Regions from separate parts of the Homo sapiens genome. Here regions 1 and 3 are each linked to region 2. Evidence: fine-mapped expression QTL. A gene starts in region 2. Each other region holds a variant in brackets. All regions are shown on one strand. Distances are from middle to middle.

Region 1 (8,141 bases), 85 kb before region 2:
GGCATCTTTTTTAAACTTTTATTTTTATGGGTACATAGTAGATAATATTTATGGGGTACATGAGATATTTTGATACAGCCATACAATGTGTAATAATCACATTGGGATAAATGGGATATCCATCACCTCAAGCATTTATCATTTCTTTGTGTTGCAAACATTCCAATTATACTCTGTTATTTTAAAATATACAATTAAATTATTGTTGAGTGTAATCACCCTGTTGTACTAAATCTTCTTCATTCTATCAAGCTATATTTTTGTACCCATTAACTGCCCCCACTCCCCCACACCCCACACTACCCTTCCCAGCCTCTGTTAACCATCATCATTCTACTCTGTCTCTATGAGTTCAATTGTTTTATTTGAGCTCCCACAAATAAATGAGAACATGTGAAGTTTGTCTTTCTATGTCTGGCTTATTTAACTGAACATAATGTCCTCAAGTTCCACCCATGTTGTTGCAAATGACAGGTTCTAATCCTTTCTTATGGCTGAATAGTACTCCATTGTGTGTATGTACCACATTTTCTTTATCCATTTGTTTGTTGATGGACACTTAGGTTGCATCCAAATCTTGGCTATTGTGAATAGTGCTACAATAAACATGGAAGTGCAGATATGTATTTGACATACCGATTTCCCTTCTTTTGGTATATACCCAGCAGTGGGATTGCTGGATCATATGGTAGCTCTATTCTTAGTTTTTTGAGGAACCTCCAAACTGTTCTCCATAGTGGCTATACCAATTTACATTCCTACCAACAGTGCACGAGGCTTACCCCTTTCTCTACATCTTTGCAAGAATTCTTTTTTTTTTTTTTTTTTTTTTTTTGAGACAGAGTCTTGCTGAGGCTGAAGTGCAGTGGCGTGATCTTGGCTCACTGCAACCTCTGCCTCCCAGGTTCAAGTGATTCTCATGCCTCAGCCTCCCAAGTAGCTGGAATTACAGACGTGCACTACCATGCCCAGCTAATTTTTGTATTTTTAGTGGAGACGGGGTTTTACCATGTTGGCCAGGCTGGTCTCCAACTCCCGACCTCAGGTAATCCTCCACCTCGGCCTCTCAAAAGTGCTAGGATTACAGGCGTGAGCCACCGTGCCCAGCCTGCAAGAATTCTTTATTGCCCTTCTTTTGGATAAAAACCATTTTAACTAGGGTGAGATGATATCTCATTGTAGTTTGGATTTGCATTTCTGTGATGATCAGTGATGTTGAATACCTTTACATATACCTGTTTGCTGTTCGTATGTCTTCTTTTGAGAAATGTCTGTTCAGATCTTTTGCCCATTTAAAAAATCTGATTGTTAGATTTTTTTTTCCTATAGAGTTGTTTGAACTTCTTATATATTCTGGTTATTAATCCTTTGTCAGATGGATATTTTGCAAATATTTTCTCCCATTCCATGGATTGACTCTTCACTTTGTTTCATTTGCTGTGCAGAAGCTTTTTAACCGGATGTGATCCCATTTGTCCATTTTTGCTTTAGTTGCCTGTGCTTTTGGAGTATTACTCGAGCAATCTTTGCAGACCAATGGGAGAGTTTCCCCCGATGTTTTCTTGTAGTAGTTTCATAGTTTGAGGTCCTAGATCGAAATCTTTAATCCATTTTGATTAGATTTTTGCATATGGCTAGAGATAGGAGTCTAGTTTCATTCTTCTGCATGTAACTATACAGTTTTCCCAGCACTATTTGTTGAAGAGACTGTCCTTTCCCCAATGTATGTTCTTGGTACTTTTGTTGAAAATGAGAGTTTATTGTAGATTTATGGATTTGTTATTGGATTCTCTATTCTGTTCCATTGGTCTATGTTTCTGTTTTTATGCCAATACCATGTTATTTTGGTTACAATAGCTCTGTGGTATAATTTGAATCAGGTAATGTGATTCCTCCAGTTTCTTTCTTTTTTTCTTTTGAGACAAAGTCTCAGCTCTGTCACCTAGGCTGGAGTGCAGTGGTGCAATCTTGGCTCACTGCAACCTCTGCCTCCCGGGTTCAAGCCATTCTCCTGCTCAGCCTCCCGAGTAGCTGGGATTACAGGGGCATGCCATCACGCTCAGCTAGTTTTTGTATTTTTTTTTTTTAGTAGAGACAGGGTTTCACCATGTTGGCCAGGCTGATCTCAAACTCCTGACTTCAGGTGATCCACCCACCTCGGCCTCCCAAAGTGCTGGGATTACAGGCATAAGCTACTGCACCCGGCCCAGCTTTTTTTCTTTTCCTCAGGATGGCTTTGGCGATTCTGGGTCTTTGTGATTCCATAGAAAGTTTAGTATCTGAGTAGTATGGGAATTTTAAAAATACCGATTGTTGCAATTCATGAACATGGAATATCTTTCCATTTTTTTGTATCTTTAGTTTCTTACATCAATGTTTTATAACTTTCATTGTAGAGAACTTTTTTGTTTGTTTTTGAGACAGTCTTGCTCTGTCACCCAGGCTGGAGTATAGTGGCACGATCACAGCTCACTGCAGCCTTGACCTCCTGGGCTCAAGCAATCCTCCCACCTCAGCTTCCCGACTAGCTGGGACCACAGGCTTGAACCACCAAGCCCAGTTAATTTTTTTGTATTTTTTGTAGAGATAGTGTCTCACTATGTTGCCCAGGCTGGTCTCGAACTCCTGGACTCAAGCAATCCTTTTGTCTTGGCCTCCCAAAGTATTGGGATTACAGGCGTGAACCACTGTGCCTGGCCTTTTAGAGCTCTTTTAATTCATTGGCTAACTTAATTTCTAGGTATTTAATTTTATTTGGAGCTACTATAAATTGGATTACTTTTTGGTTTCTTTTTCAGATTGTTCACTGTTGGCATATAGAAATGCTACTGATTTTTGTATGTTGATTTTGTATGCTGTAACTTTTCTGAATTTATCAGTTCTAATAGTTTTTTTAGTGTAGTCTTAGGTTTTTCCAAATACAAGATCATAATCATCTGCAGACAAGAATAATTTGGCTTCTTCCTTTCCAATTTGGATGCCCTTTATTTCTTTCTCTTGTCTGATTGCTCTAGCTAGGGTGTCCAGTACTATGTTAAATAACAGTGGTAAAAGTGGGGATCCTTTTTGTGTTCCATATCCCAGAGGAAAGGCTTTCAGTTTTTCTTCATTAAGTATGATACTAGCTTTGGGTCTGTCATATATGGCTTTTTGAGCTATGTTCCTTCTATACCTAGTTTTTTGAGGGTTTTTATTATGAAGAGATGTTGAATTTTATCAAATGCTTTTTCAGCATTAATTGAAATGATCATATGGTTTTTGTCCCTCATTCTGTTGATATAATGTATCACATTGATTGATTTACGTATGTTGAACTATCCTTACATCCCAGGGATAAATCCCGGTTGGTCAGGATGAATGATCTTTTCATGGGTTTTGCCATTTTGTTAAAATCTTAGTGTGACAGTTTTCAGATGATGGAAAAATAAGAAGAGTGACTTTCAGCTGGAGAGTCCTTATTAAAACACAGATGTCTTCTGTAAATAGAGTTGGAAAAATACTACCAGTGAGCTCTTTGTTTATAAATGTTTCTTTTAACTTATCCATGCAGGATCTGAAATGGAAAGCTACTTCTCTTTCATCAGTC[A/G]AGAGGTACATTACAACAGAATCCTTGATGCACTGAGAAGAGAGCTGGGTTCCAAATCTCACTCAGTGATCTAGGAGAGGAGAGGCAGCCAGTGTTCTGCCTGCCTTAGTTTTTCCGATCAGGGTTCCTGTGGCTCTTTGTGTTTTGGCCCGGCCTCCCCCTCAACAGCCTTCCCTCTTCTGCCTGGCCTCTCTGAAACACTGTTTGAATTCTAAGATAAGCTGTGATGTCTGACCTGTATTAATAGCTATGATAAACTTGTGGAGCTATTGTCATTTCAAGGAGTTTTTGGATATTGAAGAGTTTAAGTAAGTTGTCATGTTTTCTTTTGGAATTCCCATTTGGTTGAGTATAGCATACTGAAATGATACTCCTGAAGTCCGTAGGATGATGACATTTTTGCATAGTAAAGTCCCTGTTGTGCAAGATATGAAATGAAATTTTTTTAACGAGAAAGATCTTTGTGACTTCATGATTTTTCTACTGCCTCATTCATAATTCCTAAGCAGGAAACACACATATCTCAGTTTAGCTTCTTTGAATCACACAAAATGTTTTGTCTGGTGGTCTTATTTTGCTACCAATGAGACCACATTTACAGGGTGAAAACAATCTTTCTCAAGTAAAGTGTTATGGTTTATGAAACCTGTGGAGTGTGCATTGAAATGATAAATAATATTTACACATGCACAATAGATTGAGTTCTATAGAGGGCGAATACTTTTAGAAGTAGACTTTCCTCTGTGCATATGGGTAATAGTGTGAGTGGTGTGGCCCATGTTTGTTGTATTTAACTTGAGTGTGTTTAAATGATTATAAGGTGCTTTGGGTAGAGTTACTACAATATTAGCTCTAAAAGGTTCACGGACTTCTTTCTATATTTAGCATGAAATTTTTTTTTTTTATAGATTTTTTTTTTTTTTTCGCGAGACGGAATCTCGCTCTGTCACCCAGGCTGGAGTGCAGTGGCACAATCTCCACTCACTGCGGGCCCCGCCTCCCAGGCTCATGCCATTCTCCTGGCTCAGCCTCCCGAGTAGCTGGGACTACAGGTGCCCGCCACCACGCCCAGCTAATTTTTTGTGTTTTTAGTAGAGACGGGATTTCACCATGTTAGCCAGGCTGGTCTCGATTTTGTGACCTCGTGATCTGTCCCCCTTGGTCTCCCAAAGTCCTGGGATTACAGGCGTGAGCCACTGTGCCCGGCCTATGGATTTTTATGGTACTTGGGGGAGACTTTGAGTATGTGGGTTTAGCATCTTATAAAGACAGTTTCATTAAGTGTTACATAAGGCTCATGCATATATCTTCGTTTTGCACACTTAGAATGCCACAGAAGGGACTCTTTTCTGTTGGTGTCTTAAGACTCACCAAGGTCAGCCATGAGGAATCAGCTTAAAAATTTTCCCTCATTTTTTTTTTCTAAGGTATTAAAAACAGGCCAGGCACGGTGGCTGGGAGGCCAAGGCTGGTGGATCACAAGGTCAGGAGTTCGAGACCAGCCTGGCCAACATGGTGAAACCCCGTCTCTACTAAAAATACAAAAATTAGCTGGGCGCGGTGGCAGGCGCTTGTAATCGCAGCTACTCGGGAGGCTTAGGCAGGAGAATTGCTTGAACCCGGAAGGTGGAGGTTTCAGTGAGCCGAGATCACGCCACTGCACTCTAGCCTGGGTGACAGAGCAAGACTCTGTCTCAAAACAAAAACAACAACAACAACAACAAAAAACCAGACATGATTGGCTGGGCATGGTGGCTCACACCTGTAATCCCAGCATTTTGGGAGGCCGAGGCAGGCAGATCACCTGAGGTCAAGAGTTTGAGACCAGCCTGGCCAACATGGTGAAAACCTGTCTCTACTAAAAATACAAAAATTAGCCGGGTGTGTTGGCACATGCCTGTAATCCCAGCTACTCAGGAGGCTGAGGCAGGAGAATCACTTGAACCTGGGAGGTGGAGGTTGCAGTGAGCCGAGATTGTGCCACTACACTCCAGTCTGGGTGACACAGTGAGACCCTGTCTCAAACAAAAACAACAACAGCAACAAACCAGACATGATTTCTTTTATTTATTTCTTCATTTTTTTCTTTATTTCTTCTAAAAAAAAGAAAACATGGGATACATGTGCAGAACATGCAGGTTTGTGCCATGGTGGTTTGCTGCACCTGTTGACTAAGTTCTAAGTTCCCTTCCTTCACCCCCCACCCGCTAACAGGCCCTGGTGCGTGTTGTTTCCCTCTCTGTGTCCATGTGTTCTCAATGTTCAAAACATGCAGTGTTGGTTTTCTGTTCCTGTGTTAATTTGCTGAGGATGATGGCTTCCAGCTTCATTTATGTCCCTGCAAAGGACATGACCTCATTCCTTTTTATGACTGCATAGTATTCCATGGTGTATATCAGACATGTTTTCTTGAGATGTTAGTAACAGTGTTTTTCTGGCCAACTCAATGTGAAATAATACTGTTCTTGGGTAGAATAATTCATCTTCATTCATGGAAGTGATACTTTAATGTAATTAGATGTATATTTTATCTAAAGTGGCACAAAAATATCTTGGCATATTGTACATTTGGAGATGTTGACCTCACATATAACTATTGCCCTTGACCCTCTTTTCTTGTTCTATTTAATATTCTAGGTACGACACCGAGCTTCTGGTCAGGTGATGGCTCTTAAGATGAACACATTGAGCAGTAACCGGGCAAACATGCTGAAAGAAGTACAGCTCATGAATAGACTCTCCCATCCCAACATCCTTAGGTAATGGCTTTTCCTTCCTTCTGATCAATGAGAAAACTGAAACATTGGAGGCTTGCTAGAATAGCACTAATAGGAAAAAAAGGAGGGATTCAGGATTTATCATGCTGAATCTATCTTGCTGGGGTTTAGTGGTACTCTAGGTCGTTTTCTACCCATTGAGACTTAATTTATTGGTAATTAACTGCATTTAATAAAGCAACTTCCTTTATCTCTTAAGTTGCTTTACTCTCATTAGAACATTAGTAGCAGCTCATTAGAACAATTGTTTTCTATTGCTGACTGGTAATTTATCAAAGAGGAGAGATTGGTCTTTATGTGGTTATTTACTTTTCCTGATTACTTTTTGGGAAATTGTAATTAAATCAATGAGTGGCAATAAATGTAAAATTACACCCTCAAGTTATCTATCCTTAACTTTTAGCACTCACTTGAGGAGACACATTTTGCCTTTGAGAATTGTTATTTTTTTGAGATAGGGTCTCACTCTGTCACCCAGGCTGGAGTATAGTGGCATGATCATGGTTCACTGCAGCCTTGACCTCCAGGGCCCAGTTGAGCTTCCCCACCTCAGACTCCTGAGCAGCTGGAACTACAGGCGCACCACCACATCCAGCTAATTTTCACATTTTTCGTAAAGTCAGAGTTCCACCATTTGCCCAGGCTGGTCTCAAGTTCCTGGGCTCAAGCAATTCACCCTCCTTGGCCTCCCAAAGTGGACAATTATTTTTATAAGTTTATGTAATTGTCACTTTTTAATAATCCGTATCTGAATCTTTCTTGCTTTAATTATTTTGATATTTTAGTCAGGCAAGTATATTTTCTTTTTAAAAAAAATTTGGCTGGGCGCGATGGCTCACGCCTGTAATCCCAGCACTTTGGGAGGCCGAGGCAGGCGGATCATGAGGTCAGGAGATTGAGACCATCCTGGCTAACATGGTGAAACCCCATCTCTACTAAAAATACAAAAAAACAGTTAGCCGGGCGTGGTGGCACGTGCCTATAGTCCCAGCCACTTGGGAGGCTGAGGCAGGAGAATTGCTTGAACCCGGGAAGTGGAGGTTCCCCCTGGGAACCTAGTGCAGTGAGCTGAGATTGCACTACTGCACTCCAGCCAGGGTGACAGAGCAAGACTCCGTCTCAAAAAAAAAAAAAAAAAAAAATTTTATTTGGCCAGGCATGATGGCTCATGCCTGTAATCTCAGTACTTTGGGAGGCCAAGGTGGGTGGATCTCTTGAGCCTAGGAGTTTAAGACCAGCCTGGGCAACATGGTGAAACCCCATCTCTACAAACAACAACAACAACAAACAACAAAAAAAAATTAGCCAGGTATAATGGCATGTGCCTGTAGTTTCAGCTACTCGGGAGGCTGAGGTGGGAGGATCTCTTGAGCCAATAGTTCACAGCTACAGTGAGCCATGATTGCAGCACTGCACTCCAGCCTGAGTGACAGAGTGAGACCCTATATTAAAAACAAAAATGATTTTGTTAAAAAAAATTTTTCTTAAATGAGATAAGGTCTCACTGTGTTGTTCAGGCTGGGATTACAGGTGTGATCCACCACACCTGGCCAGTATATTTTTAAATGAGACCAAATAAGACAATTTAATTCAATGTATATTTAGTTAGGGTTTATGTGCAGGATGCTTTGTAAAGTTTAAAGTACTATTTACTTAGGGTCATTTATTGCTATTTTTTGTATGTTTATATTAGGCTAGAGAGAACTCATATGGCTTAAGTATGACTTACATGTTTGGTCAATGGTATTAAATTATGGAATTAAATTATACTGCTTACT
Region 2 (8,141 bases):
CAGGGCTGCGGTCCCTGGCTCACTTCCACATAGGCCATCACATAACCTGTCATAAAGGCATCAAAACCAGCCCGGTGCAATCCATCCCCAGGCACTGGGTTAGGACTGGCTTGGCTCCCTGGCACTTCTGAGGTAGCTCTATCAGCTATTTCAGGCCTTGCTGCCTTAATCCCCATCTCTAAGTCATTTTTGTTGCCTTGCTTGGAGTGAGGCAGGTTCCTAGTTTCATCGGCAGCCACCTCCTGCTCGGTTTCTTCAGGCTTGATGCTATCCCCACAGACCTGCTTCTTGGGAGGACCATCCTTAGCTTCCCCAGAGGTCTGTGTCCCCGGTAGGTTCAATAAAGCCCTCTTCCGTTTTTCCCTACGTCGTCGCCGTCGCCGCTTGTCCTCTGCCGCAGCCTCATCAGTGTCAATGATAAGGTCAATATCGTGAGACTGAGGACACTGTGGTCCCAGGGGGCACCAGCCATAAGCCTAGGGGTGGGAAAGAGGCTTAGAAAGAGGCTCCAGGCATCAGAACCTTCCCTCCCAAGAAACAGGTGGGTGCTCTCACCGAGAAGTTGTCACAGATGCTGGTGGGATGAGGACGGTGGGTTGCTGGGGGCAGGCAGCAGCGGTAATCAATATGGTCCCTCATGCTGGAAGGATAGTTGCAGAACTCCAGGGTAAGGTGTGGGCTGCCAGCTGCCCGCTGCTTCCCATTTTCCCGTTCACTGCAACAGCGCAAGAGGGTAATGGTCCACTAGCATATAAGCTCCATAAGAGCAGGGTTTTGTGGTCTGTTTTGTTCACTGCTGAATCCTCAGCACCTAAAACACTGCCTGGGCACATGGTAGGAGCTCAATAAATATCTTAAGTGAATGAAATAAACTCGTATCAGGCCCCACCCCTTTCCCTCAACCATTTCCTCACCATTTCCGGAAGGCATATTCTAAGTAGGAGGCCACGAAACGGGCATGAAACTCAGCAGCATATTTGGTGTCATAAATGCCTGCTGGGAACATCTCACACAGGTCAGCGGTGAAGGTTCCCAGACTCTCAGGGAGGTGTGCATAGAAGTTCTGGTACAGGAACACCAAGTCTATAAGGCCATTGTGTAGCACCAGGGGCCGGCGGGCTCGGATTAGCTCCAGGAATAGGGTCCGTACTGACTGGCTCTGGCTCTCATCACCCTAGATGAAAGTAAAGGGGTCAATGAGGAGGACAGAGTCCCCCAGGGAGCCTCTTCTGCTGGGCACTTATCCCAGACTTCCCCACTTGGAACGCTCTCTCTCTACCTTACCCAATGCTGCCCACCCTCCTCATACCAGTCTTGTTTCCCAAGCCCTGTCACTAGTGATTCCCCATACTCCCTAAGAAGCAGATTCTCCCCAGACATCCAGCCTAGGGTAGGAAGAAATAAAGTCACAGAAAGGGCAGACTCAAGGCTAGGGAGGCTAGAGGCCTACCTTGTCATTGCCCTTATGGTAGGGGATGCCTTGGGCATACTGCTGGTTGAAGTTGAAGCCATGCTGTATCAGGAACTGCACAGACTTTGGTTCTATGACATACTCCTCCATGCACAGCAGAGTGAGATTGAACACTTGAGCCAGATAGGAATGTTCACCCTGGGAGAAAGAGAAGTCTGCTATATCAAGATTTCAGAGAGCCAAGCTAGGAGGATGCAAAAGCTTAAGAATGATACAATGGACTCTGGGGACTCAGGGGGGAAAGGATGGAGGCAGGTGAGGGATAAAAGACTACGCATTGGGCACAGTGTACACTGGGTGATAGGTGCACCAAAATCTCAGAAATTGCCACTAAAGAACTTACTCATTTAACCAAACACCACCTGTTCCCCATAAACCTATTCAAATAAAAAAAAAAAAACTATCAAGTCAAAAAAAAAGATTTGGGAGAGAAATGCTTCCTATCTGATGTTCCCTAGAATCTCTCTACCCTCCACCCCACAGCCACACCTAGGATTGGGGTGAGATCAGCTCATACCTTGTCTGGCTGCCGCTTGAAGCAGGCGAGGCCCAGGGAAAGGATAGAACGGGTCCTGGCAGCATGACACACGGCCTTGTAACGTTCCTCAATGCACCTTGGGGTTGGGTATGGGGGTTGCTGTGGCTAGGAGTTAGCCTTATGAAGGACCCAAACCACCCAGGTCTGTGACCCCCCCACTCCACAGTTGAGGGCTGGCACTAAAGAGAAAAGGGCTTATACTTACTGGTTCAGCAAACTCTTCCTGTCCCCAAGCCCACTCAGCTCCTGTGGGTAGGTAAAGGGAGAGTTGTGACAGGCCTCTAGCACCAGCCCCTTCACAACCACCTGCCCTCCTTGTTTCCCAACTCTCACCGTGTCCACAGCCACGAAATTAGCTGTCTTTATGGCTAGCAGGAGGGATGGCCACATCTCCTTGAAGTTGTTGCTTTGCACATCCACTACGGGAACCTGGACTACTAGCTCCTCCCCAGATGTTGTGCTTTTGCTGACACCACCTGGGGGTTAGGAGGGTGATGGATGTTCATGCTTAAGGAAAGAGCCCAGGGGAACAGACACCAAGCTAGGCCACGGTGATGGTGGTAAGGGGGGTAGTTTCCATTGGTAGCTTTTCCCACAAGCCTTTGTAACCCACGTGTTCTACACACAGGCCTTGGAGTGGAGAATGCCCTGAATTTGGGGAGAGGAAGCCTGAGTCTTCTACTGGCTTGTATGAGCCTGGGTAAATTACTTCCCACCTCGCTTTCACAATCTGTAGAGGAGAAAGTTGGACTAGACGACCTTTGATTCTTTTTTCCCATGTCCTGCAGGAAACATTTTGTAGGGCTTGAGGATCTCAGCTCCCTTAATATCCCACAGGGATCCATACTACTGTTCTCATGGTGCCCCAGCGCCACAAGCAACAGCTCCCAGTAAGCCCCAGAGCCTGGCAGTGCCCCACACCAGAGCTCCCAATACGTCCTACCTTCCTTTGGATCACAACGCTCAATCCACTCCACTGAACTGAATCACAACTATTACTACTAACCGTTATGAGCTCCAGACTACATCTCCCGCCATGCCTCCATCAGCCCCATGCTCCCAACGCTCCAGGCTTTTGCAGCCGGAGCCGCGGTGTACAACGGAACTTGTAGTCTCCTCGTGGCTAGTTCAGGCGGAAGGAGCAGTCCTCTGAAGCTTGAGGAGCCTCTAGAACTATGAGCCCGAGGCCTTCCCCTCTCCCAGAGCGCAGAGGCTTTGAAGGCTACCTCTGGGAAGCCGCTCACCGTCGGAAGCTGCGGGAGCTGAAACTGCGCCATCGTCACTGTCGGCGGCCATGACACCGCTCGTCTCCCGCCTGAGTCGTCTGTGGGTACGCTGGACTTGCGGTCCGTCTCCTGGCGCGGTTCAGGCAGTCGGGGATGGGGCGGGGTCTCGCCGTCGGGTCGCCGATGGGTCGAACTTCCGTTCAGACGTCCCGGGTCCGGCGCGGGGAAGGCAGCCTGGCGCGCGCTAATTGCCTATTGGCCTGTGCTGCCGGCTCGCAGCCCGGGTGGACCCGAGCCACGCCCCCTGGAGTGCGCCGGAAAGCCGGGCGCGCTAGAGCTCGCGGGAGGTAATCTTTCTCTCCTGCTCTCGCGGCGGGAACGCGGGGCCTCCGTGTTCTGCTGTCTTCATCAGCGTGGGCCGCGGGTAGCGGGTAGTGGGGTGGCTGGGTTTGGGCTTTCCAGAGAAGGTGACGCTGCCTGAGCTGAGCTTAAAGCACGCCCAGGAGTTAGACTAGGAGAGGGTCGTGTGGGGGAAAGAAGGGCGTTCTGGGCATCGGTAAATTCCCAGAGAGGATGGAGAGCTCAGTGATCTCCAGAAAGTGAAAGAGGCGGGGAGTGGGCCATCGGAGGAGGCTGCCCAGGGTGTAAGAGCGACCGATTGGTAGGGAAGCTTTTGTAATAATCCAATCAAGTGATAATGTGAACTTGAATTAAGGCTGGCAGTATGGATGGCGAGGAAGGGACAAATTGTGAAGCAGCTAGGCGGTATAGTCGACCTAGAGGGTGATTGAATTTGAAAGAGGTTCCTAGGCCGGGCGCGGTGGCTCACGCCTGTAATCCCAGCACTTTGGGAGGCCGAGGCGGGCGGATTACCTGAGGTCCGGAGTTCAAAACCAGCCTGGCCAACATGGTGAAACCCCGTCTCTACTAAAAGTACAAAAAAAATTAGCTGGGTATGGTGCGGGCGCCTGTAATCCCACTACTTGGGAGGCTGAGGCAGGAGAATCGCTTGAACCTGGGAGGCAGAGGTTGCGGTGAGCCGAGATCACGCCATTTTGCACTTCAGCCTAGGCAACAAGAGCGAAACTCCGTCTCAAAAAAAAAAAAAAAAAAAAAATTCCTATTGGAGACTAGTCCCTCCGTAAACACTACGATTCCCATCCACCTCTGCCTTCCAGTGCTCCTTTGTTACTCATTGTTTATAGTTAATCTTCAGCTTCTCTCAACTGAGCCCATTTCATCATTATTCAGAACTGCTTGGGCCGGGCGCAGTGGCTTATGGCCTGTAATCATCTTAGGAGGCCAAGGTGGGAGGATCGCTTGACCCTAGGAGTTCAAGACTAGCCTGGGCAACATAGTGAAACCTTGTCTCTACAAAAAGAAAATTAAAAATTAGTTGGGCATGGTGGTGCGCACCTGTAGTCCCAGCTACAGGAGGCTGAGGTGAGAGGATGGCTTGAGCCCAGGAGGTCGAGGCTGCAGTGAGCCATGTTCTTATTGCACTCCAGCCTGAGTGGCAGAGCAGCAAAGTGAGGGACACACTGTCTCTAAAAACAAAACAAACAAACAAAAAAAAAACAAAAATAAAAAAACTCTTTGGATTTCTCCTATCCTAAAAAAGGGAAACTCTTTTGACTATCCCCCATCCCATTAATTCATTTAACAGGTATCTATTGTGTACAGTTTACCTGGCACTGACTTTGGACACACACCAATCAACAAGAGAATCAGTCCTTGCACTCAAGTCGTTTTTTACAGTCAAATTCAGGAAGTACACACTGATGGAAAGAATCAAAGTAATGTAAAATTACATTAGGTAAGAGCTACAAGGCAGAAATATGTGATAGGATAAGATGAGGGGACCTGATTTGGACATTTCAGTCAAGACTTGAAAAATGATAAGGTGTTAGGTAAAAGCATAAAAGAGTCCAAACAGAGGAAATGGATTGTGTGAGGCCCCAAGGTGGGCAGACACACTTGAGGTGTTTAAGCAACTAAATTCAGTCAACCTTGGCTAGAGCATAGTGAGGGGATGAGGCGGATGGTGCCCGGATCACTGGACCTGCAAGGCTGTAGTAAGAGGACTGCCTTCTAAGAGCAAGGGTGTGGCAGCCAAATCCCTCCAATGGCCTATAAGGTACTTTGTGACCCTCCTCTCCCCACCTCATCTGGTTTACTTCTCTGACCTCTTCTACCACTCAGTCCCATCTCATTCCATTCTAACCACATTGACCTACTTACTGTACCACAGACATACCAGGCACCCTCCTTGGGGCCTTTGCACTCACTTAGAATGCTTTGGGTCTACCTTGACCACAGTCTTTAAAATTGCAACATTAAACCCCACCTTGGCACTCTTTTTTTTCCCCTCTTGGTCTAATTTTTGCTTTTTATGCTAATATTTATCACCTAACATCTTATGGAATTTACTTATGTTCATTATTCCTTTTCTGTCCCCATTAGAATATAAGCTCCCTGAGGGCAGGAACTTTTGATGTTTTATTTACTGAAGTATGCCAAGTGCCTAAAACTGCTTGGCACATATTAGGGGGCTCTATAAATATTTGCTCAATCTTTTTTTTTCTTTAAGAGACAAGGTCTTGCTGAGCCCAGGGTGGAGTGCAGTGGCACAATCATAGCTCACTGCAGCCTCGACCTTCTGGGCTCAAGCTGTTCTTCACTTCAGCCTCCAGAGTAGCAGGATTACAGTGTTGAGCCACCACAACCAGCTTGCTCAAGAATTTAATGACCCATAGTAAAGGCCTACAGTATTTAAAAAAGAAAGAAAAAGGAAAAAAGGAAGGAAGGAAAGAGGGAGGGAGAAAAAAAGAGAAAAGAAAGAAAATAAAAGAATATAATGGGGTGTCACCAGGCGCCGTGGCTCATGCCTGTATCCCAGCACTTTGGGAGGCCGAGGCGGGTTGATTGCTTGAGCTCTGGAGGTGGAGACTAGCCTGGGCAACATGGTGAAACCCTGTCTCTAACAAAAATACAAAAATTAGCTGGATGTGGTGGTGGTGTGCGCCTGTGGTCCCAGCTGCTTGGAGTTGGGGTGGGGTATTGGGGTGGGAGGATTGCTTGAGCCGAGGAAGCAGAGGTTGCAGTGAGCCAAGATCACACCACTGCACTCCAGCCTGGGTGACAGAGTGAGACCCCATCCCAAAAAAAAAAAAAAGAATGGGAAACCATTGAAGGTTATAAGGAAGGAAGTGACGTGATCTGGAAAAGATTCCTTTGCTCTTTGGAGAATAGATTGTAGAATGAATGTGGAAGTAAGCAGGTTTGGTGAAGGAAGTTTGGCTATGAAGGGAAGGAGGGTGGGATTTGATTGTGTTACGAGCCAAGGGGAAAATCTTTCCCTTTGCCCTCTGAAGATCTGCTGAAAAATCAGCTCACAAAAGGCAGGTTAACTGGAGAAAAGGCATACAAATTTATTAACATGCACATTGGGAGAACCATAAAGTGATTACCCATCTCCCTACAGAGTTCGTGAGTTTATATACCATCTGGCAAAACAGATTATGGGAGGGGTGTCTCACGTGTGTCCATGTGAAGAGACCACCAAACAGGCTTTGTCTGAGCAACAAGGCTGTTTATTTCACCTGGGTGCAGACAGGCTGAGTCTGAAAAAAAGGAGTCAGCAAAGGGTGGTGGAATTATCATTAGTTCTTATAGGTTTTGGGATAGGCATTGGAGTTAAGAGCAATGTTTTGGGGGCAGGGGGTGGATCTCACAAAGTACATTCTCAAGGGTGGGGAGATTATAAAGAACCTTCTTAAGGGTGGGGGGGAGATTACCAAGTACATTGATCAGTTAGCGTGGGGCAGAAACAAATCACAGTGGTGGAATGTGATCAGTTAAGGCTATTTTCACTTCTTTTGTAGATCTTCAGTTGCTTCAGGCCATCTGGATGTATAAGTGCAGGTTACTGAGGATATGATGGCTTAGCTTGGGCTCAGAGGCCTGACAAGGGGTAGAAGAGAAATTCTGTTTTTCTGTTTTTGTAGAGACGGGGTCTTGCTATGTTGCAAGCCTAATCTCGAACTCCTGGGCTCAAGTAATCCTCCTGCCTTGGCCTCCCAAAGTGCTGGGATTACAGGCCTGAGCCAGCATGTCCAGCTCTATTTGTTTTTAAATAAACCGAACTTTGGCCAGAAGGAGATTCTGTTGAAGGGCAATAAAGGATTACTAGAGAGAATGGAATGGGGACAGAGGTTGACTTGTTAATAGTTCTCTTTGGAATTTGAGTGATCCTGAGGTACACAATACCTGTGAAAGGGTTTGTTCAGGTGTGGTTACATGTTAGTCTTATTGGGAGGGGAAGAAAAAACAAGTATTCTTTTTAGTGAGTTTGGACTTTAGGCAGATAAAGAGTTCCAGAGAACAACTTTATCCTGGCTTTGGGAGAGTCTGGGGTGGAAGGATCAGAGAGACCTTGCGGCTTCTTGAGTTCAGCATGTCAGAGGGCCATATTTTGGGGTATTGGTTTCTTTTCTTTTCTTTTTTTTTGAGACAGAGTCTTGCTCTGTCTTTGTTGCCCAGGCTGTGCAGTGGCATGATCTCAGCTCACTGCAAGCTCTGCCTCCTGGGTTCAAGCGAGCACGTCTGGCTAATTTTTTTGGATTTTTAGTAGAGATGGGGTTTCGCCATGTTGGCCAGGCTGGTCTCGAACTCCTGGCCTCAAGTGATCTGCCTGCCTTAGCCTCCCGCAGTGTTGGGATTACAGGCATGAGCCACCGTGCCTGGCCTGGGGTATTAGTTTCTGAGTTCCAACAGTTAGACGGGATTGGAGGAGCAGGACCCTGAAGAGGAGGAGGGTAAGACAGTGCAAATGGAGGTAGATTTGAAGTTGGTTTTTTTTTTTCTGAAGGAGGAGGCAAGCTCTTTTGATGAAAATGAGGTGGTA
Region 3 (8,141 bases), 83 kb after region 2:
TCAACATTGGTACGTGACTATAAATTAAACACTTTATTAGCATTTCACCAGTTTTCCCCCCAAAGTCCATTTGCTGTTTGAGGATCCTCTTCAGGACACCACATTACATTCTGTCATCATGTCTCCCTAGCTTCTTCTGGTCTGTGATAGTTTCTCATACTTTGTTGTCCTTGATGACTTTGACAGTTTTGAGAAGCACTGGCCAGGGTTTGTTTGTTTTTGCAAATGTCCGTATTTGTCCAGTGTTTTTCTCATGGTTAGACTGGGGTCATAGGTTTTGGAAAAAATCACAGAGGTGAAATACCATTCTCATCCCATCATATTGTTACTGAACCAGGCTTCTTCTTCCTGTCATGCAGTATGTCAATCACTGAGATGATGTGTTTTGCTGCAGAGGAAGAGTTTATTCATGAGGCAGCCAAACAAGGATATGGGAAAACAGGTCTCAAATCTGCCTCCCTGAAGATGGAATTTTAGGGATATTTATAGAATAGAGGAGCAAGATGGTCCAAAGCATGGGGAAAGGTGATCGTGGTAAGGAAAACTGAGGTAATTGGTCATCTGTGCAAGCATAACAGACTTCATGGCTCTTCATAGAATATATGTTCAGAAAATTACAGCATTAGCATGATCTGAGGGTGGAGTTTTTGGCCCTCTGACATCAAAAGGTGACCCATCAGATGCTCACACAGGCCCAGTTGAAAGGTTGGTGGTCTCAGCTGGCTTGAACTGGACAAGAACTGACTCTCTAAGTTCCTGAAAAACAACTTAAGCAACCATTACCATGGTGATCTATACATCAGAAATGTTATCTACAAGAAAGCTAGTGGAAATTTAGTTATATATTACTTAGCAATGTGACTTTTAGCTATATAGGTTTTAAAATCAACTAAAAGCAAATTAATAAAGACAAGTAAGGTAAGTTAAATTTGGTGGGCCTAATTGGGTTTGTCCTCAGTTTCAATATCAAGGGTACATTGCCATTAACATGAGGTATTAGTCTTCTCTCACACTGCTATGAAGAAATACCAGAGACTGGGTAATTTATAAAGAAATGAGGTTTAATTGGCTGATGGTTCTGCAGACTGTATAGGAAGCATGGCAGCTTCTGGAGAGGCCTCAGGAAACTTATAATCATGGTGGAAGGTGAAGGTGAAGCAAGGCATCTCACATGGCCAGACCAAGAGGAAGAGAGAGAGGGGGAAGGTGCTACACACTTTTAAACAACCAGATCTCATGAGATCTCACTCACTATCATGAGAACAGCAACCAGGGGGATGGTATTAAGCCATCCATGAGAAACACTCTCATGATTCAATTACCTTCCACCAGGCCCCACCTCCAACATTGCGGATTACAATTTGACATGAGAGTTGGACAGGAACACAGATCCAAACCATATCATTCTACCCCCAGCCCCTCCCAAATCTCATGTCATTTTCACATTTCAAGGTACAACCATGCGTTCCAACAGTCCCCCAAAATTTTAACTTATTCTAGCATTAACCCAAAAGTCCAAAGTCCAAAGTCCAAAGTCTCATCTGAAACGGGAAGTCCCTTCCACCTATGAGTCCGTAAAATCAAAAACAAGTTAGTTACTTCCAGAGACAGTGGGGGTATAGCTGTTGTGTAAATCAAGCTTGTCCAACTCATGGCCCATGGGCCACATGCAGCCCAGGACAGCTTTGGACATGGCTCAACACAAGTTTCTTAAAACACTATGAGATATGTTTTGCAATTTTTTTTTAGCTTATCAGCTCTCGTTAGTGTTAGTGTATTTTATATGTGGACCAAGACTATTCTTCTTCCACTGTGGCTCAGGGAAGCCAAAAGATTGAACACCCCTGGGGTAAATACTCCTATTTCAAAAAGGAGAAATCAGCCAAAAGAAAGGGGCTACAGGCACCATGCAAGTCCAAAACCCAGCAGGGCAACCATTAAATCTTAAAGCTCAAAAATAATCTCCTTCGAATTCATGTCTCACATCCAGGGCACTCTGATGCAAGGGAAGGGGCTCCCAAGGCCTTGGGAAGCTCTGCTCCTGTGGCTTTGCTGGTTCAGCCCCCAGAACAACTGCTCTCAGGGGCTGGCATTGAGTGCCTATGGCTTTCCAGGCACAGGGTGCAAGCTGCCAGTGGATCTTCCATTCCAGGGTCTGGAGGATGATAACCCTCTTCTCACAGCTCCACTAGGCAGTGCCTCAGTGGGGACTCTGTGTGTGGGGTCCAACCTCATATTTTCCCTCTGCATCACCCTAGAAGAGGTTCATCATGAGGGCTCCACTCCTGCAGCAGGCTTCTGCCTGGACATACAGGGTTTTCCATACATCCTCTGAAATCTAGGCGGAGGCTCCCAAGCCTCAACTTGTGTACTCTGTGCACCTGTAGGCTTAACACCATGTGCAAACTGTCAAGGCTTATTACTTGCACTCTCTGAAGCAGTGGCCCAAGCTGTACTTGGGCCCTTTTTAGCCACAGCTAGAGTTAGAGTGGCTGGCACACAGGCAGCAGTGTCCCAAGGCTGTCCTGTGCCTGGCCCACAAACCATTTTGTCCTCCTAGACCTCCAGGCCTGTGATGGGAGGGGATGCCTTGAAGGTCTCTGAAATGCCTTTGAAGCTCTTCCCCCATTGTCTTGGATATTATCACTTTGCTCCTCTTTACTTATGAAAATTTCTGCAGCCTGCTTGAATTCCTTTCCTGAAAATGGGCCTTTCTTTTCTACCACATGGCCAGGCTGCAAATGTTCCAAATTTTAATGCTCTGCTTCCCCTTTAAATATAAGTTTTAGTTTCAGGTCATTTCTTTGTTCATACATATGAGCTATAGGTTGTTAGAAGCAGCCAGGCCACGTCTCAAACACTTTTCTGCTTAGAACTTTCTTCCACCAGATACCCTAAATCATCTCTTTCAAGTTCAAAATTCCATAGATCCCTAGGGCAGGGGCACAATCCAACCAAGCTCTTTGCTAAAGCATAGCAAAAGTGACCTTTGCTCCAGTTCACGATAAGTTCCATATTTCCATCTGAGACCTCCTCAGCCTGTCCAATATCTGTCCATGTCACTATCAGCATTTTGGTCACAACTATTCAACAAGTCTCTAGAACGTTCCAAATTTTCCCTCATCATCTTTTCTTCTTCTGAACCCTCCACACTCTTCCAACCTCTGCCCATTACCCAATTCCAAAGTTGCTTCCACATTTTCAGGTGTCTTTATAGCAATGCCCCACTCCTCAATACCAACTTTCTGTATTAGTCTATTCTTGCACAGCTATAAAGAAATACCTGAGACTGGGTAATTTATAAAGAAAAGAGGTTTAATTGGCTCATTGTTCTGCAGGCTGTACAGGAAGCATAGCAGCTTCTTGGGAGACCTCAGAAAGCTTCCAATTATGGTGGATGGTGAAGGGAGAGCAAGCATGTCACATGGTGAAAGCAGGAGCAAGAAAGAGAGGGGAAGGAGGTGCCACACACTTTTAAATGACCAGGTGTCACAAGAACTCACTTACTATGGTGAGGACAGCACCAAAATGATGGTGCCAAACCACTCACAAGAAGTTCACCCCCATCATATAATCACCTCCCACCAGGCACCACCTCCAACATTGGGGATTACAATTCAACATGAGACTTGGGCCGGGACACAGATCCAAACCATATCACATGACCTGTCAGTGATGATGTTAACCTTGATAACCAAGCTGAGTTAGTATTTGACAGGTTTCCTTACTATATAGTTGTCCTCCACCTCTCCTCTCTTGTTGCATTTAAAAATTTTTAAATGGAATAAAAAATGAAATGGAAAACTAAATGAAGCTTTATTAAATACCATGGGGGAGTGTGCAGGTGCAGTGGCTCATGCCTGTAATCCCAGCACTTTGGGACACCAAGGCAGGTGGATCACTCGAGCTCAGGAGTTTAATCCCAGCCTGGGCAACATGGCAAAACCCTGTCTCTATAAAAACAAAAATTAACTAGGTGCAGTGGTGGGTGCCTGTAGTCCCAGA[T/C]ACTTGGGAGGCTGAGGTGAAAGGATCACTTGAGCCTGGGAGGCAGAGGTTGCAGTGAGCCAAGATCATGCCACTGCACTCCAGCCTGGGTGATAGGAGTGAAACCCTATACCCCCCACCCCCGCCAAAAAAAAATACCATGGGAAGAAATTATATTATTGGAACGTAGGTTATTCACTATTCACCAGAAGTTTGTCCTAGAGAAATTGGCATTACTTTTTAATCCATTAATATTTTAGAGTCTGGGTATATTTGGCCTTATCACTTCCCTTGGTTTTAACTACCATCTATAAGTTGATGACTCACAAATCTTCCCAGGTCCTGATCACTCCCTGCATCTGAAACCACCCTTGCAGAATTATAAGTAATGAGAGATAAATCTTTTTTTTTTTTTTTTTTTTTTTTTGAGACAGGGTCTTGTTCTGTTACCCAGGTTGGAGTGCAGTGGTGTAATCTTGGTTCACTGTGACCTCTGCCTACTGTGTTCAAGCAATTCTCCTGCCTCAGTGTCCTGAGTAGATGGGATTACAGTTGCACACCACCGTGCTCAGCTAATTTTTGTATTTTTTTTTAAGTAGAGACAGTGTTTCGCCATGTTGGCCAGGCTGATCTCAAACTCCTGACCTCAAGTGATCCGCCTGCCTCAGCTTCCCAAAGTGCTGGGATTACAGGCGTGAACTACCATGTCAGGCCAGTAATGAGAGAGAAATCTAACATGACTAATTGCATCTTGCTTCTAATCTCACAGGCTAAATTGCTTTTTTGCTTATTCTGGTATAGAGGCCAAGATAACTGTGAAAGGAATTTAGTTTATAGCTAAACTTTGAGGTAAGGAAAACTGACCCCCTTCCATGTTTGGAGATTGAAGATGCTTTCATAAAACAAGATTAGAATCATGGTAGGGACTTGAACTTTGCTATAGAATAGGCATAAACAATCACCTGTCATTGTTTAACTTTCTTTTCTTTTTTGAGATGGAATTTTGCTCTTGTTGTCCAGGCTGTAGTCCTGTGGCACAGTCTCGGCTCACTGCAACCTCCGCCTCCCTGGTTCAAGAGATTCTCCTGCCTCAGCCTCCCAAGTAGCTGGGATTATAGGTATGCGCCACCACACCCGGCTAATTTTGTGTTTTTAGTAGAGATGGAGTTTTACCATGTTGGCTAGGCTGGTCTCAAACTCCTGACCTCAGGTGATCCACCCACCTCAGCCTCCCGAAGTGCTGGGATTACAAGTGTGAGCCACTGTACCCAGCCAAGCTTGCTTTTCTATAAGCTGCTTTTGCTATCCCAGAGTCATGTAACTGGGGGTCACAAGATTTGTAACTTTCCCAACTATTCAAATGAATTAACATCACTATTGTAAAACCTAAAGAACTAGTCTTTGAGATATTTTTCAGATTTAGCATTTTGGCAACACAAGAGATGCTACCTGGTCCTTAGATGCCCCCCTCCCTGGAACTGATTAGACTGTGCAAAGACAATTTAAACACTCTTGTGACTTTATCCCCAGCCAATCGATAGTTTCAGTTCCCTAGACCCCTGTCTGCCAAAATGCCCTTAACACCCTAGCCTCCAAATTGTTGGGGACATGAATTTGAGAAATGCCTCCTGTCCTGCTTGGCTGGTCCTGTGATATTAAACTCTTTCTTTTCAGCATTATCTGCTGTTCTCAGTGCAGCAGGCAAGAGCCCATCAGGCTGTGACAGGTTGGCTACTTAATGTATTCAAACTCCTATAAAATGTTTCCCCTGTGATGTTTCAGAGACACTTCAAATTCAATGTACCCTAAGCTGAACTTTTTGTGTCCCCTCCATCAATCCCTGCATGACCCACATCTTCTCCTCCAGTGTTCTCTAGCTAAGTGAATCAAACCAAATCTATCCATTTACCTAAGCCAAAAACCCACCCTCCACCTCAAAACCTGAGTGATCTTTCTAAAACATAAAGTCTGTCTATATCACCACTGCCATGTCTATAATATTAAATCCTCTCTCAAGACTTCTATTTCCCTCTTTGGTTTCAACTTTTACCATTCCCAGACTTGTTCTCTACCCTCATGAGTGCCAAATGACCTTTGGTTCATTGAGCATACCCTGTGGTTTATGCCTCTGTATCTTTGTTCAGGCTATTACCTTGTCTGGAAGAGTTCCCTCTTCCAACTCTGTCTGCCCACTATCTTCTTATCCTTCAAGATTCAGCCCAGCATTTTATCTTTGTAAACTTCAAAACATCTAGCCCCATTCAGTCTTCCTCACTAGATTGTAAGTTCCTGAGGGTAGGGACCATATACGGTTCATCTGTTTGTTTGTTTGTTTTTGAGATGTAGTCTCACCCTGTCGCCTAGGCTAGAGTGCAATGGCATGATCTCGGCTCACTGCAACCTCCGCCTCCTGGGTTCAAGTGATTCTCCTGCCCCAGCCTCCCGAGTAGCTGGGACTACAGGCATGAGCCACCATGCCTGGTTAATTTTTGGATTTTTGGTAGAGACGGGGTTTCACTATGTTGGCCAGGCTGGTCTCAAACTCCTGACCTCAGGTGATCCACCACCTCGGCCTCCCAAAGTGCATAAGCCACTGCACCCGGCCTATGGTTCATCTCTGTAGCCCGCCATCCCCACCCACCCTGCTCAATATAGTACCTGCCAGTCAGACTGAAGTCGCAGTCACTCAGGAAATGTTTGGGACCAAGCTGATTTCCACTGTGCTCCTCTGACACTTAAAGCGGTTATTACATTTTATTATTATTATTAATCAAAATGCCTGGCACCTCACCAAGGAAGTGAGCTCCAGGAAGACAGAGTCTTGAGTCTTATTAATGCTACAGGACCAGTGTTTGGAACACAATAGGAGCTAAGTGAGTATTTCTTGGATGAATGATCAGAGCAGGAACTGTTAAAATTGAATTGCTTTTTTCATGACTCTTCAACCAAACATTGGCCAAACCATCCTGAGGGAAGTTTGGTCTCCTTTGTCAATCTACTTAAGAAAAAAAGAAATACATAGCTGAAAATGATGTAAAAATGGCTAAATTGGTAATGTGAGCATCACTAGGTGAAAAGTTTCAAAGCTAGGTTATTTCTCATAAATGGAACATTACAAAATAGGCATCAACTGGCCGGATGCGGTGGCTCACGCCTGTAATCCCAGCACTTTGGGAGGCCGAGGTGGGTGGATCACAAGGTCAGGGGTTCGAGACCAGCCTGACCAACATGGTGAAACCCCATCTCTACTAAAAATACAAAAATTAGCTGGGTGTGGTGGTGGGTGCCTGTAATCCCAGCTACTCAGGAGGCTGAGGCAGGAGAATTGCTTGAACCCGGGAGGCGGAGGTTGCAGTGAGCTGAGATCGCGCCACTGCACTCCAGCCTGGGTGACAGAGCAAGACTCGGTTTCAAAAAAAAAAAAAAGGCATTAATTTTCCTTAGCCAGGTACAGTAATATGCAATTAAATAGTTTTAATCTCATGCCTAAAGCATTGCTGTTTAGAAAAGTAAGACAGGTAATTGTAAAGTTTCAAAATCCAGCAAGTAAAATCAGGAACACTCCCAGAATTGAGTCTAGAGGAGACTGAGAGTCAGAAGAGAGTCTGGCAATTAGGAGAAAAAGGAAGCAGTAGTTTGACATTGGAAAGTGCCTGGCATGTAAGAGAAGAATCTGGCAAGGGAGGGACAGGTGACTAATCAATTACCACAGATTCAGTCTGCCATTGTCTGGGCTTTGGAAATAAGTTGATGAGGTTTGGATTTAATAAACATTAAAATTCTAAGAACACTTAAGAACTGCCCAGGGAGGCTGTGGAGCGATCATCATATGAGTAGATTTCTAAGGCTAGACCAGACACCCATCTATTATGGATGGTTTGAGACTACCACATCCATCCTGCTACCACAGAGAGAAGTTAATGACCCTGCAGATCTTCATTCCAAACTTCTGAAAGGCGGAGAGAGGTTAAATGGTGCTAACTTTGATTCTGCTGTTTCATCACAGATTCCTTGCTATTAATTCAGATACAATTGACAAGCATTTTCTCTAAACAAGAGATTTAATTTGTTGGTCTTTTCATAAACATTGCTATCCAATTTTTATACACCTTTATATATATATATACCAACATTTACATACCCCTATACACAGTAAA

Evidence for each region. PIP is the estimated chance that this variant, and not a neighbour inherited with it, causes the effect. A credible set is the group of variants that fine-mapping cannot tell apart.
Region 1: its variant is the best candidate, but not a certain one, in a credible set for the expression of MUTYH in T cells (TOPMed, PIP 0.74).
Region 3: its variant is the best candidate, but not a certain one, in a credible set for the expression of MUTYH in whole blood (TOPMed, PIP 0.85).

Annotation. Positions count from the first base shown.
Region 1 is chr1:45,419,929-45,428,069 of GRCh38, reverse strand. It overlaps TESK2 (testis associated actin remodelling kinase 2), which reads left to right. Exons shown (of 11, transcript NM_007170.3): 3 at 6,224-6,345. Among named protein-coding and RNA genes, the nearest start is that of TESK2, 67 kb to the left of the region's middle. The variant A/G (reference allele first, on the strand shown) is at 3,587.
Region 2 is chr1:45,335,417-45,343,557 of GRCh38, reverse strand. MUTYH (mutY DNA glycosylase) reads left to right here and starts at 3,588. Exons shown (of 16, transcript NM_001048174.2): 1 at 3,588-3,659. It overlaps TOE1 (target of EGR1, exonuclease), which reads right to left and starts at 3,388. Exons shown (of 8, transcript NM_025077.4): 1 at 3,254-3,388; 2 at 2,343-2,485; 3 at 2,215-2,255; 4 at 1,989-2,085; 5 at 1,451-1,609; 6 at 915-1,174; 7 at 556-715; 8 at 1-476. The coding sequence starts at 3,305. RefSeq lists enhancers at 2,063-2,729, 3,028-3,377, 2,730-3,398, 3,399-4,066.
Region 3 is chr1:45,252,639-45,260,779 of GRCh38, reverse strand. No RefSeq gene overlaps it. Among named protein-coding and RNA genes, the nearest start is that of LINC01144, 47 kb to the left of the region's middle. The variant T/C (reference allele first, on the strand shown) is at 4,006.